Homo sapiens: one gene and its partners. The protein of the gene in region 3 interacts with the protein of the main gene of each other region in a pairwise test. Each region holds a gene or a part of one and is shown on either strand. Other genes may lie near its edges.

What was found. The genes of interacting proteins can lie anywhere in the genome.
Region 1: the proteins of IGSF21 (region 3) and EPB41L3 interact in a two-hybrid assay, tested with the Homo sapiens proteins (one large-scale study listed by IntAct).
Region 2: the proteins of IGSF21 (region 3) and BTBD2 interact in a two-hybrid assay, tested with the Homo sapiens proteins (one large-scale study listed by BioGRID and IntAct).
Region 4: the proteins of IGSF21 (region 3) and PCDHA4 interact in a two-hybrid assay, tested with the Homo sapiens proteins (one large-scale study listed by BioGRID and IntAct).

The regions. Positions count from the first base shown.
Region 1 is NC_000018.10:5,393,998-5,397,497, forward strand, and holds part of EPB41L3 (band 4.1-like protein 3), read right to left. Parts: intron 3,430-3,500; coding exon 3,061-3,429; intron 2,336-3,060; coding exon 2,204-2,335; intron 1,711-2,203; coding exon 1,612-1,710; intron 1,151-1,611; coding exon 1,070-1,150; intron 797-1,069; coding exon 686-796; 3' UTR 680-685; intron 1-679. UniProt on the Homo sapiens protein: Tumor suppressor that inhibits cell proliferation and promotes apoptosis. Modulates the activity of protein arginine N-methyltransferases, including PRMT3 and PRMT5.
Region 2 is NC_000019.10:2,009,215-2,012,714, reverse strand, and holds part of BTBD2 (BTB/POZ domain-containing protein 2), read left to right. Parts: intron 1-3,500.
Region 3 is NC_000001.11:18,114,298-18,117,797, forward strand, and holds part of IGSF21 (immunoglobulin superfamily member 21 precursor), read left to right. Parts: intron 1-3,500. UniProt on the Homo sapiens protein: Involved in synaptic inhibition in the brain. Selectively regulates inhibitory presynaptic differentiation through interacting with presynaptic NRXN2.
Region 4 is NC_000005.10:141,006,068-141,009,457, forward strand, and holds part of PCDHA4 (protocadherin alpha-4 isoform 1 precursor), read left to right. Parts: intron 1-3,390. UniProt on the Homo sapiens protein: Calcium-dependent cell-adhesion protein involved in cells self-recognition and non-self discrimination. Thereby, it is involved in the establishment and maintenance of specific neuronal connections in the brain.

The DNA of each region.
Region 1 (3,500 bases), on a different chromosome or scaffold from region 3:
AAACAGTCACTGGAAAGGTATGTGCTTTCTACAGGACCACAAGACTGCATTTTTTTTGCCTCCTTCTGAGACAGTGCTACGCTAGGGAGAAAAATCATCCCAAAGAATACAGGAAATATAAGACATCCAAAAAGAAAGTGAGTGCTCAGCTTTCAAATTAAAAAAACAAAACTAAAGACAAAAGCATAAACAGGTTACAATCAAACACAGTTGAAGAGAAAGCTTACGACGGGATAATGTTGCCATCAGAAGGAGAAAGGGGTATATATTATTTCCCTAGTATTTGGAACACACAAATTGAGCCTCTCAGAGCAAAACTGCCTTTGTTCCAATTAGGCCACATGGCAAGTAAAATCAAATTTGCCATTACAAATTTGGATAATCAAAGAGTGCAGGCCATGGAATAAAAGGGAACACCAGGAAGACCACACAAGCATAGAAGCATAGACTCTGCTCTTCCTTTATCCTCTAACTGGCAGTGCATGCAAAAACTCCACAAGAATGGAAGCTCCAAATGTGAGACAAACCCATAAACCAATTCTCCATCCTCTTGGTAACCAGCCCAACAAATGCCAGTGAGAGAACAGAGGAAAGGAGGGATCAGGTGAAGGATGAGAGGGAAGTGCCCCATGCCTCATGCCAGCCTAGGCAAGCCTAGAGAATCGGCATCACCTCTTACCTCTGGTCAATCCTCTCCATCTTCTGGTGTGATCTCTGTCTCTTTATGGACCACTACTTTGGTCACTGACATGTCAGGGTGCTGCTCTTTGGCCTCTTTAATTGCCTGAGCCAGCGCCTATCCCCGGGAAATCACAGAAGGGCAGAAACAAAAAGGAGGTGGAACATGCATGATCAGTGGTGAGGTGGAGACTTATGAGCTAGATCTATATCCACAATTTACAAATGAGGTACAATGATTACAAAAGGAATCATAAATCATATATTGGAAAGTTAATTCGGAATTTTCTTCGGAATACATGCTGGACTAGAGGAATAGCATTGAAACTGTAGGACCAACAGGTTTTTCTTTGTTTCTCTGCCAGGGTATTTACCGTCTCACACACACTACCTGGTCATGGTCAATGTCTGCATCCCCCGTGATGACTATTCGCTTCTCAATTCTTGTCTCTGAAATGCCCCCTTTCACAGTCTGCAAGACACGTAGAGAAGCTTTATGAATTTACTCACTGGGAGAAACCATCATGGTTCAGTAGGGGGAAATGGCCGAAGATGCTGACATCATTCACTCTTCGAGAATTGAAATTAGAGTTCTATGGCACTTATTTCACATTTTTAATTCCAGAGGTGAGGACGGAATGGAGGCCCTTGGGTCTGGATGGCCCATGTTTCTGGAACACTACCACATGCCAAGCACTGGAGTAAGCATTAAGCTTAGGATATCAGAATGTATATTCCTAAAGGGGAACTCGCACGTGAGGACAAGTGCATCGTAAATCTAGGGGCTGTAAAAGCTCCCCTTGCAGCTATCCCGGCGTCCTGAGCTTCAAGCCACCTTGTGCTTGTGCAGCCCAACCTGTGAGGAGTTCTGAACAAGCACCTTCCTCCAGCTCGCTCTCAAGGAATCCTCTTCTCGGTTCTCACTCCACTTACTTTGGTGATGTGCGTAGTGGTGGTGGTACTGGTGGTTTCAGATGTGATCGTCTGTGCACTCATCAGCACGCCTGGCTCCAGATCTGTGCCTGGATCGACCTAAAGCAGCAGAGGCATAGACCCCTCATCCAGGTGCTCACATCTGCTCTTCAGAAGTTGGCTACGTTATTTAAGGCATTACGACAATTTCACTATCTCCTATTATGCAATCATTATGCTCTTCAGAGTCTGAGCGCTGCTCCCAAGAATAAGTACTAAGTGCAACCACAGGTAACTGTCATTAAAAAAACTAAGGTTTCAGAAATGTGAGTGGTGGATGGGTGAGTGAATATTTTTCTTTCTCTGTGGCTAGGGAAACAGGTTTCTGAGCCTTTTTCTACACTTCAAGACACATAAAGACTTGGTTAAGTCATCTGCTGCTCCCTGATCACTAATAAAATGACCATTATTGCATCACTTTTAATAGAAATGGTCTGGCTGCTGGATCCTCTAAGTCTCATGAATTAAATATCGTGCAGTTCTATGTAAACACACTAGGCCATAGAGGGGTGAAATAAGCAGCCAGGGCTCTGGTCTTCACAGAATATCTCACCTGTGATGATTCATATGTGATGGTTTTGGTTTCGGTGTGAACTACTGGCACTTCCTTCGTGGAAATTTCTAGCTTTACTCCTCCCGGTGAAACACTGCCAAAACTGATGGTTTCCGTCTTCACCGTTGAGGACTGTGCCAAAGGGGAGTAAGCAGAGTGGCTGTTATAGTTTGCATGAACACATTGTTTTCTTCCTTTTCCTCTCTTGGTGGTTATAAGCACAGGTTAGTATGCTATAAATGTTTATGTAGAGAGTAAGCTGGGGAATGAGGCATACAACATGCACATGTCAGTCTCCTGGACTCTCATAGCACTTTTATATGAAATGCTCCAAGTAAAGCAAAACATTTTGAAGGCAATAAAAAAAAGTTTTCTATTTAATAACTTCTTAGAAAGAAGAAACTAATAATGAGACATTAACTCCCCAAATACTTCAGGAATCTCAATAAAAGAGGATAAAGAATAAAGTTCTGGCATTTAGGACCCGGGTAAACATGGTTTTGGTGCTTCTGGAAAAGTGCACTGATAAGAAATAAATGTATCACATTTTCTAATATCTTGGCCAACTTTGCATTTCCCAATTTTACTGCCAATTATAATAATTTCAGTGAGAGTAGAAACCATTTCCTGGTGCCATATTATTAATAATTAAGAGATATGTTTGCATGTGACACCAAAGCTGGAAATCAGTGTGGAGACTCCTACTAGGTATGAAAGAAGGAAATGAGAGGAGAAATACACTATACATGGGAGAGGCAGAAAATTAAACTTAGCTCCACCTTTATGCTGATCTAAATTTCCAGGCATCCTATATCAGTTTTATTTTAGTGATAAAAGTAACATTTACTACTAGTTACCTCAAAATGAGGTTTTTGTTCCAAAGTTTCTGAAATGTGGATGGCTGCACTCTGCTCCTCTTGTCGCTCACGGGAAGCAGCGGCTGTCTCTTCCTGTTCCAGGACAGCTTTAGCGACCTCCTCCCCTCCTTCCTCTTTAGCCCCCTCCGTCAAGGCAGAGCCCTCTTTCCCTTTAATGCCTGTGAATGCGGGCTGTGCTGCAGCATCCCCGCTGTCTCCCGCCGAGTAAGAAGCATCCCCACTCGCGTGCACCACACGCCGCTCCTCCACCAACACGGTCTCCTGCACCACCTTCTCAGTGCTAAGCGGCAGGTGGTGCACGGTGGGTTCCGTCTCTATTCCACTGGACTCCGTCTTGGTTTCCATTTTCTGCATGGGAAGAGATTGTGGCATCAGTGTGACCATCCATAAACCAAAGGTCAGAAAATAACTAAAGCTGC
Region 2 (3,500 bases), on a different chromosome or scaffold from region 3:
AGGAGAGGGCAATGAGGCCCAGCGGGAGATAGCAGCAAGGTAAGGTGGGCGGGCCTGGGACAGCGGACCCTCGACATGCGGGGTTAGGGGCGTGGACCCCCACTCAGCTCAAATCCAAGTACAACTTTTGACTCCCACGAACTTAACTAGGAATGGCTTCTCGCTGACCGGAGGCCTTGTGAGGACACTTGGTCAATGCACACCAGCCTCCTGTTCTCACAATAACAGGCTGGAGAACAGAAAATACATTCAGAAAAGTCTAAGGGGCCGGGTGCGGGGGCGCACGCCTGGAATCCCAGCACTTTGGGAGGCCGAGGCGGGCAGATCACGAGGTCGGGAGATCGAGACCAGCCTGGTCAACACGGTGAAACCCTGTCTCTACAAAAATACAAAAATTAGCCGGGCGTGGTGGCGCACACCTGTAATCCCAGCTACTCAGGAGGCTGAGGCAGGAGAATCTCGTGAACCCAGGAGGTGGAGGTTGCAGGGAACCGAGATTGCGCCATTGCACTCCAGCCCAGGCGACACAGTGACACACCATCTCAAAAAAAATAAAGGACAGGCTGGGCGCGGTGGCTCACGCCTGTAATCCCAGCACTTTGGGAGGCCGAGGCGGGCGAATCATGAGGTCAGGAGTTTGAGACCATCCTGGCCAACGTGGTGAAACACCGTCTCTACTAAAAATACAAAAAATTAGCCGGGTGTGGTGGTGCACAACTGTAGTCCCAGCTACTTGGGAGGCTGAGGCAGGAGAATCACTTGAACCCGGGAGGCGGAGGTTGCAGTGAGCCGAGGTTGCGCTACTGCACTCCAGCCTGGGCGACAGAGCAAGACTCTGTCTCAAAAAAAAAAGGAAAAAAAATAAAAGGAGAAATCCTGTTTGCTGTTCACACAGTGGAGGTGGCCACGATGAAGGCCTGTGTCCTTGTGTTCATATTGAGGGCTGAGGAGCAGGAGCAGGAGGGTGGGTCTGTCTCCGGGGTGGCAGAGGTGGAAGGGGAGGCAGGAGAGGCCGGCACCGTTGGGGCAGCCTTTATTGAAAAAATTCACATATGAGTGGACCTGTGCAGTTGAAGCCTGCCTTGTTGAAAGGTCATCTGTGTTTCCTTAGCATTTCAGGAGGGTTGAAAATGGAGAGGGGGCACTGACCTGGTCCAGAACGACCCCCTGAGCAAGTGATGTTGATGGAGAGTGCAGTGCCCCAGGCTCAGGGATGGAAGGCCCAGAGCCCAGAGGGGCTGGGCAGGTGGGAGCCATGGCAAGGCCGGAGCAGGAGGAGTGAGGGAGGCCCTGTGGCCCAGTGTGACCAGATCCGCATTGAGGGTGGAACGCGCCGTGGATGGGCCCAGGAGCGAGGCTGGGGAGTAGCAGCTGCAGACTCCAGGCAGGAGACAGCAGCGGGCTCGGTGGGGACGGCAGAAATGAGGGGTAGAGGATGCAGGTCCTCTTTGGAGGAAGCGAGTTCCTGTGGCCAGGAGAGGAGGCAGCTTGGCAGGTGAGGGCGTGGGGGGCTGTGGTGGGGGTCCCCAGACTTCTGGCTGGAGCATCACAAGCCAGGACAGGCTCAGGAGGGACAAGTACTGGCTTGGATGTGTTGGCGGGACCTGGGGCTGAGAGGTCCGCAGAGCAGTGTGTCCCAAGTGCTCTGTGCCTCAGTTTCCATGATTGAAACAAGGTCACTCAGACACATCTGTCCTGGGGCTGTGGGAACAAACGGACCCGATGGGTTGCTGACAGCCACAGGCCACACAGCAGAGAGAAAGAAAACAGCAGCTGAGGCCGGGCGCAGTGGCTCACGCCTATCATCCCAGCACTTCGGGAGGCCGAGATGGGCAGACATCTGAGGTCAGGGGTTTGAGACCAGCCTGGCCATCGTGGCAAAACCCCGTCTCTACTAAAAATACACAAATAAGCTGGGCGCGGTGGCACGCACCTGTAATCCCAGCTACTCAGAGTCTGAGGCAGGAGGATGGCTTGAATCCGGAAGGCAGAAATTGCAGTGAGCCAAGATTGCGCCACTGCACTCCAGCCTGGGTGACAGGGCGAGACTCCGTCTCAAAAAAAAAAAAAAGGTGGGGGGATGTCGGGACGAACTGGGGGTGCTGGGATAAAGTCTGGAGTTCACCGATGAGCAGAGAGGGGCCGGGCCTTGCCAGCTGTGAGGAGAGCAAGTGGCCTGGGCTTGGGCCTGGTCCCTGGCGGGGGTGCAGGGTGAGCTGAGACATGGCAGAGAGGAGGCTGGGAGCAGGCCTTGGTGGTGGCCCCAGTGTCTGGACCGTCGCGCAGGGGTCGGCGTTTGTGCTGGGGAGGAGGCCAGGGGTTGCACGCGGCTTCTGGGCTGTTCCCCGGTCCTGGATGGGCACCCGTCCATCTCAGCGCGCTGGAGCCTGGCACACAGTAGGCACGCAGTGATTGTGCATTGAATGATCTGTGGGAATTAAACATCTGATTCTCTCATGGGGCTTGAAGGGAGAACTGAAGATCTCCAGGGTTGCACTTTTGTAGATGTGCACATTGGCTGGTCCCATGAAGTTAGTATCTAAAATACCTTTTTCTTTTTTTTGAGACGGAGTCTCGCTCTGTTGCCCAGGCTGGAGTCCAGTGGCGCGATCTCCGCTCACTGCAAGCTCCGCCTCCCAGGTTCATGCCATTCTCCTGCCTCAGCCTCCCGAGTAGCTGGGACTACAGGCACCCGCCACCACACTTGGCTAATTGTATTTTTTAGTAGAGACGGGGTTTCACCATGTTAGCCGGGCTAGTCTCAAACTCCCGACCTCAGGTGATCCGCCCACCTCGGCCTCCCAAAGTGCTGGGATTACAGGCGTGAGCCACCGCACCTGGCCTCCCCTCCTTTTTTGTTTTTTTGAGACAGAATCTTGCTCTATTGCCCAGGCTGGGGTACAGTGGCGTGATCTCCGCATGCTGCAGCCTTCAGCTCCCTGGCTCAAGCAATTCTCCTGTCTCAGCCTTCTGAGTAGCTGGGATTACAGGTGTGCGCCACCACGCCCAGCTAATTTTTGTATTTTTAGTAGAGACAGTATTTCCGTCATGTTGCCCAGGGTGATGGTGAACTCCTGAGCTCAGGTGATCCACCCACCTCGGCCTCCCAAAGTGCTGGGATTCCAGGTGTGAGCCACCGCGCCCAGCCTAACGTATCTTTATTCACTCTATCATGGAACTGTCAGCATTGTAGCGAGGTCTAGAAGTAGAACAATCTGGGTGGGTGTGGTGGCTCACGCCTGTAATCCCAGCACTTTGGGAGGCCGAGTCAGGCGGATCACGAGGTCAGGAATTTGAGACCAGCCTGGACAACATGGTGAAACCCCGTCTCTACTAAAAATACAAAAAATTAGCCTGGTGTGGCGGTGGGCACCTGTAATCCCAGCTACTTGGGAGGCTGAGGCAGGAGAATTGCTTGAACCCGGGAGGCGGAGGTTGCAGTGAGCCAAGATCACGCCACCACACTCCAACCTGGGTGACAGACTGAGACTCCGCCTCAA
Region 3 (3,500 bases):
CCACCCAGGCAGGGACCCCATCTGGTTCTGTTCACTGTTGAGTCCTCCACAAAACACATAGCAGGTGCTCAGTCAGGTTGTTTGTTTGGGTGATTAGGCTACCTCTGGCCTTGCGACATGTGCAACCTGGTTTTGAAAAAGACTGAGCATGTGGCTTTCTATTTCTATGGAAAATTGTGTGAAAAGGCTTATAGCATGTGGAATTGAGGCTGGACTTGCAGGTGGACTTCCTGGCAGCAAAGATGTTCTGATCCTGGAACTACATTCTTTCTTTCTGCAGTTTCTCAGATAAAGTAGCAGAGGCCCTGACTAGATATCTTAACTCTCTACCTGCTGGCAGTACTTGAAAATGCACAAAACACTTCCACGCCCATTATTCCATTTAGACCTCACATCACACAGGGAGACAGCTAGTCTTGTACCTGTTGAACAGATGAGGGAAAATGAGGCCCAGGAAGATGAAAGGATGGCAGTAGGCAGTGGCTGGACTGGAACCCAGATTCTGTGGTTGCGAGCTCAGCCTTCCTCCCATCCTCAACCCATTGCTGGACTTCATTTAGCCACAGGGGTCTGGCATGAGACAGGTCAGTTTCCCATGTGCTTACAGGCCAGTAAGCTTTGACCTCAAGTGTGCACTGTGAGCTGTGTGCTGCTGTAGCCACTTTGCTGCTGTGACTTCCTCTATCCTCCACTGCTGTCCAGGTGGGTGTTATATCCCCAGTCCACAGGTGAGGACACTGACATGCCCAGGGTCACACAGCTTGAGACAAGAGCTCACTGTCTCCCCTGTCTCCACAGTCTTGTCCTGCTCAGAGATTTCTGGCCTTAGCTTCTCCATCCTCCACCTCCTCCCCCACTTCCGCCCTTTCTTGGCTCAGAGAGCAGACATCTGCCCTCAGCTAGCACAGTCCCTGGCTCCCCATAAGGCTTTCTCCAAGTTTCTGCTCACCCACATCCTCCCTCCACAGCCCCCCACCACACACACACAGACTCAGGTGTGCCCTAAGCATGTTGGCAGCAGTACTTTTGGCAACACTTTGAAAGCAGCCCTCCTTGGGGCTGGAGATCGTTGGGGATAGTCTCCCTCCTGAACAGAGCTATTGAGGGTGAGCATCTCTGCACCCTCGGCCCTGGCACCAGGCCTGGCTCTGAGCACATAGATCCTGAAGATGTGTTTGTTGAATGAATGAATGATGTCTCCCCTGAGCCTGAGGTTTGGTTCAAACACCAGACCCAGGCTTGTTTCCTGGCCCTGCTCAGTTGCCTCTGGAAGTCCTTTCTGGTGTGAGAATGTGTCCATTGTCCTTCTCCATTCCATGGACCACAGTGGCATCACAGCTGGCATCTGGAGGAAGGGCCAACACTGCAAGGTGATGGGAAGACCAAGGGGACTTCGTGTCCCCTCTATGTTCTCCTTGGAGAGGGGACTGTCCTAGATGGGTGATGGGGATTTGGGAAGGTAAAGAAAGAAGGAAGGAGGGAGGAAAGGAAGGAAAAAGGTTGAGAAGGGAGGGAGGAAGACAGGAAGGAAGGAAGGAAGGAAGGAAGAAAGAAAGAAAGAAAGAAAGAAAGAAAGAAAGAAAGAAAGAAAGAAAGAAAGAAAGAAGGAGAGGGAGGGAGGGAGGGAGGGAGGAGCAAGCATTCACCGAGCAGCTACTATGTGCCAAACCCTGTGCCAGACATGTTCACACATAACATCATACTCAACTATCCCAGAAATGCCTGTTTGGGAGATAATATTCTCCCCCTTTACAGATGAGTAAAGAGGCTTGGAGAGATTGTGTGACTTGCCTGAGTGAGGGGCAGAGCCAGATTCACACCCAGGCATTGATTTGCACATCTCTTCCCAAATCTGAGTTTCTCCCATTGGTAGCTTGAAATAGACCATTACTGGAGTATTCACACAATGGAAATCGGCAAACTATACATTGGGGCCTCCCTCACCCGAGAATTGGTTGTTACACACTTGCCAGCACATCCCTGGGTATGCCCATCCTTCCTAATCCCTCCCTGTCTCTGTGGGGCAGCCACCTGCGGTTAATGTGCTTTGGTTTCCATCTGCAATGGGCTCCTGTTGTCCACCACTTCCTAACAAAGTATCCTTGGGCAAGACACTCGCTGTCTGAGTCATAGTTTCCCTGTCTTTTAAAAATGGAGGGTGAGTGAGATACAGCAATAACACATGAGAGCTTTTGGCATGTAACTGGCCTCTCCCTTCCTCCTGATGGGGCCAGCAGGCCATGGAGACTCTGAGGAGAGTGGGGTCACTGTTTCTTCTCCCTCTGCTGGAGCTGCTTTGGGCGAGAAGTCCACGATCCAGTCACTTCCATTAATTAAGCAGCTGCCCCAGGCCTGATTCTGGACTGACAGAGACCTCTCGGGGAGTTTCAGGTTGTGGGCAATCCCACATTCATTGAGAACAATTAAAAATCACATGTAATCAAATGGCCAATACAGGGCTTGAACCAAGCTTATGTCTTTGGGGATTAAAGGGAGTGGCCCAGGAAGGCTCTGAAGGATTGAAACAATCTTGCCAGGTCAGGAGTGGTTTCCAGGCAGGAGAAACAGCACATGCAAAGGGCTGGGGAAGAGAGGGGAATGCCATCTGGGCAAGTGAGGGTTGGAGCTATGAGGCTCCTGGCCTTGCTTAAGTGCAGGTCCTGGTTGAGAAGCTGGGGAGGAGGATGGAGGAGTTGGCAGAGACCTGCCTGCTAGGAAAGCGGTCTGGATTTGAGCCCATGGGCTGAGGGGAATGGTTTAAAAGAGTGGAGTGGCATTCCCAGAGCAGGGCTCTAGGAAGATTAATTTGGCTTTTCTGGGCCACCTGAAGCTGGAAGCTCTTTTGAACCTCCACTGGGTTATAAATGGTTGCTCTGGGTTGCCCAAAGAAACGATGGACTCCAGAAAGAAATGCCATCGTTTGGAGATGGCCCACTTCTCCCAGCACATCCTGACCCAGTGAGGAGGGAAAGCCAGGCCCTTGCCCAGGCCCTACCAAGATTGCACAGCCTTGAATGAGACTGCCCCAGCCTGAGTGTGTACCTTGGGCTTGACCCAAGAGTGAAGGGAGGAGGAGCGCGGTCCTGGGGAGAAGCTTCTAGATCTCCAATGGGCATGGGCTTTGTAGTCTAACCAGCTTTCAGATTCCACCTCCACCACTTGTCCAATTTGTGGACTCAAGTAACCTCTTCATTATTTTACCCTTGGTTTCTTCAACCGCACTTGTCACTCTTCATGGTGGCCTCGTCTGGTGGGGGCTGCTGGGAAGCGTGAATGGATAATACCAGGAGGCCATATGCACAGTGGCTAGCATACAGCAGGTGTTTGAAAAGTGGTTGCTCCCTTGATGATGTTTGGCTCCCCACCATGTGGTAGGAGCACCCTCCAGGTTTGAAGGGAAAGAAGTGTTTATAACCCTTGATTCCCAGGAGGAGAGGATGCATGGCAGGTTTCCCCATGTGGATCACTGGAAGAACCTTTGGGTTTGGAATTACAGAGCA
Region 4 (3,390 bases), on a different chromosome or scaffold from region 3:
TCAGATTATTGAAGGGACTTATGTATCATGGTAAGGAGTTTTTTTTTTTTTTCTCAAGGCAGTAGAAAGCTTAAGCAGAGGAGTGATATAATCTGATTTATATTTTTAAAAGAGTTTGCTATATGTATGTTATGCCTCATTTTTTTTTAAATTTTTTATTTTTAGATGGAGTCTTGCTCTGTTGCCCAGGCTGGACTGCAGTGGCACGATCTCAGCTCACTGCAAGCTCCACTTCCCGGGTTCATGCCATTCTCCTGCCTCAGCCTCCTGAGTAGCTGGGACTATAGGCGCCCACCACCACGCCCGGCTAAGTTTTTTCTATTTTTTAGTAGAGACGCGGTTTCACTGTGTTAGCCAGGATGGTCTCAATCTCCTGACCTCGAGATCTGCCTGTCTCGGCCTCCCAAAGTGCTGGGATTACATGTGTGAGCCACCGCGCCTGGCTGTTATACATCAGTTTTTAAAGAGAGACATTAAGAAATAAAGATGACTCTGGCTACTGTGTGGAGGGTTGGAGAGAAGCAAAAGTGGAAGCAGACTGAATAAGGAGACTATTGCTGCAATTCATATAAGAGATGATGGTGTCCTGAAAGAGTGGTGGCAGTGAAAATTGGGAGAAGAGGACAGAGTCAAGATATATTTAGGAGGCAGAAATGACAGGTCTTGATGATGTATTATAAATGGAGAATGAAGAATAGAATAGAGAAAAATGAATAATTAGCTTTGAACTTTCTGGCTTGAGAAATGGGGTAAATGGGGTGTAATTTACTGAAACTGGAAAGATTTAGAAAGGAATAGATTCGAGGAATCAAGAGTTTGATTTCAGATTTCTTCAGTTTGGGATGCCCATGAGATTTCCAACTGGGGATACCAGATAGGCAGTTATACATGAGATTGGAGCACAGAGAGATGTGGGCTTAAAATATAAGTCTGCATCTCATCAGCTTATTCATATGGTATTTATATCTATGGATATGGCTGAGATCCCAAAAGGAGAGAGTGAAGAGAAAATAGAGAAGAGAGTCTAGGGCCAAACCCAAGGAAGCTTCAACACACAGATGAGGAGACTGACAAAGGAAACTGTCAAAGAACAGTCAGAGAGAAAGGTCAGGAGAATGTTTTGATGGTGGGGGCCAGAATATGCTGTCCCAAAATAAGAAGGATTGTTGAGCTGAAGGCAAGTTAAAAGAAGCAGATACAGGCTGGGTGCAGTGGGCTCATGCCTGTAATCTTAGCATTTTGGGAGGCTAAAGTGGACAGATTGCCTGAGCTCAGGAGTTCGAGACCAGCCTGGGCAACATGATGGAACACCATCTCTACTAAAATACAAAAAAAAAAAAAAAAAAAAAAATTAGCCAGGCATGGTGGCATGTGCCTGTAGTCCCAGCTACTCAGGAGGCTGAGGCACGAGAATTACTTGGACCTAGGAGGCAGAGACTGCAGTGAGCTGATATCTCGCCACTGCACTCCAGCTTGGGCAACAGAGCAAGGCTCTATCTCAAATTTAAAAAATAATAATCATGATAATAATAAAAGAAGCAGATATAGGAGAGGTCTTCTGCCCTCCCTGTATTTGCCTAAAAAACCATAAATTTACAAAGACAAAAGTTATCCTACTTCCACCTCCCTCCTCTGCCTCCCACCACCAGGGAGAACAAAGGTTAACCACTGAAGATAACTTTGGACTCTTATTGGCCTGGAAATGGTACTGCTTTACAAATTAGCCTTTATCTGCCATTCATTTGCCTTCCCCCAAGTAGCTACCCATTAGAGACTCAAAGTCCTTAAAGGTCTTTTCCTTTGTCTTACACTTCTTTAAAAATTTATTGTTCTTTGTTGAAGATGCTATATAAGCTGGAATTCTAAGCCACCTTTTTGAGAACTGCTCATTCTCTGGGTGTCTGTCATGTATATATGAAATGTACATGTTAATAAACTTCTGTTTCCTTTTTTTTCTTGTTAATCTGCCTTTTGTAACAGGGGTCCAGTCCATCTAAGAACTTATTGGGGTTATTCTACATGACAAAGAACTCATGAGAATAAGTGTTTCAAGAAGGGGATGACAAATGCTGCTGAGAGGTTTGATAAGATGAGGACTAAAATGTGACCATTGATTGTGGAAGTAATATAATGAACTTGACATGAGTTATGTTAGAAAATTACTGCTCAGGGACACCAAATTAGAGGAGACTGAGAAGTAATAGGAAATTGAAATAGCAGTTGTACCCAACCCTAAACTGTAATTGAACATAAACAGTTTATTTGATGGAGCTTTTCACGTGTCAACCAAAGGAGCAGTGTTAGATACATAAACATTGCTATGATGTCAGAGTTCCAATGTCATGGCCACTGGGATCACTTTGCCCAGACAGACCATTACCCTTCCTCTCCAGCTCTGACTTCTACTCTTCTAGAAGTCACTGGTATACTTTATGGTGTGTCTTCCAATCAGACTCTTGGGAATGTCTTTTATTGAAAACTCCTGTGGATGCATAATCATTTTCCCAAGACTCAGGGCAGATTTCACCTCCTCTGGAACCCCATTAACTTTCTCAAGTATAATTAACAATTTCTTCTTCTGGAGTCCCACAATACTTTACATATACTTTAGTTATTGCATGTATTAAGTTGGTTTCTAGTTGCTTGAGTGTATGTCCAACTAGACTGTGAGCACACTGAGGGAAGGAATTTGGCTTGGAAAGTAAAATTGGCTCCCAGTGTTTTATCTAAACAAATAGGCTCAATTTACAACAGGATTCCATCCTCTTACGCTGTGTATTCCCATCTCTTCCATGCTGCATCCCACCACCCTTCAATGTTATTACAATAAAATTAAGATCAAATAATTTATTCAGCTAATTTTTCTTGTTTTGGACAAAATAGACATCCTAATACATTTATAGCCAAAGTTTAATCTAGACACTAAAAGGAGCATATTTTGCCTTTAGGCTCTGTATTTCCCATCCCGTTCCCAGTCAAGATAATCACAACTGTATTCTTTAGGAAATTCTTCACAAAGAACCAAACATATGTTACTATGAAACTAGATTCTTGGTATCCTGGTGAAAAAACCTGCCCTCTTGCTTGTCTGTAAATACTGGCCTTGGCTGGGTGTGGTAGCTCATGTCTATGATTCCAACACTTTGGGAGGCCAAGGTGGGAGGATCTCTTGAGCTTCAGTGTTTGAGACCAGCCTGGGCAACATAGTGAGATCCCATTTCTATAAAATTTTTTTTAAAAAGCTAGCCTGGCATGGGAGCTTGTGCCTGTAGTTCCAGCTACTTGGGAGGCTAAGATGGGAGGATTGATTGAGCACAGGAGGTCGAGGCTGCAGTGACTGCATTTCAGCCTGGGTGACAGAGGGAAATCCTGTCTCAAAAAAATTAAACA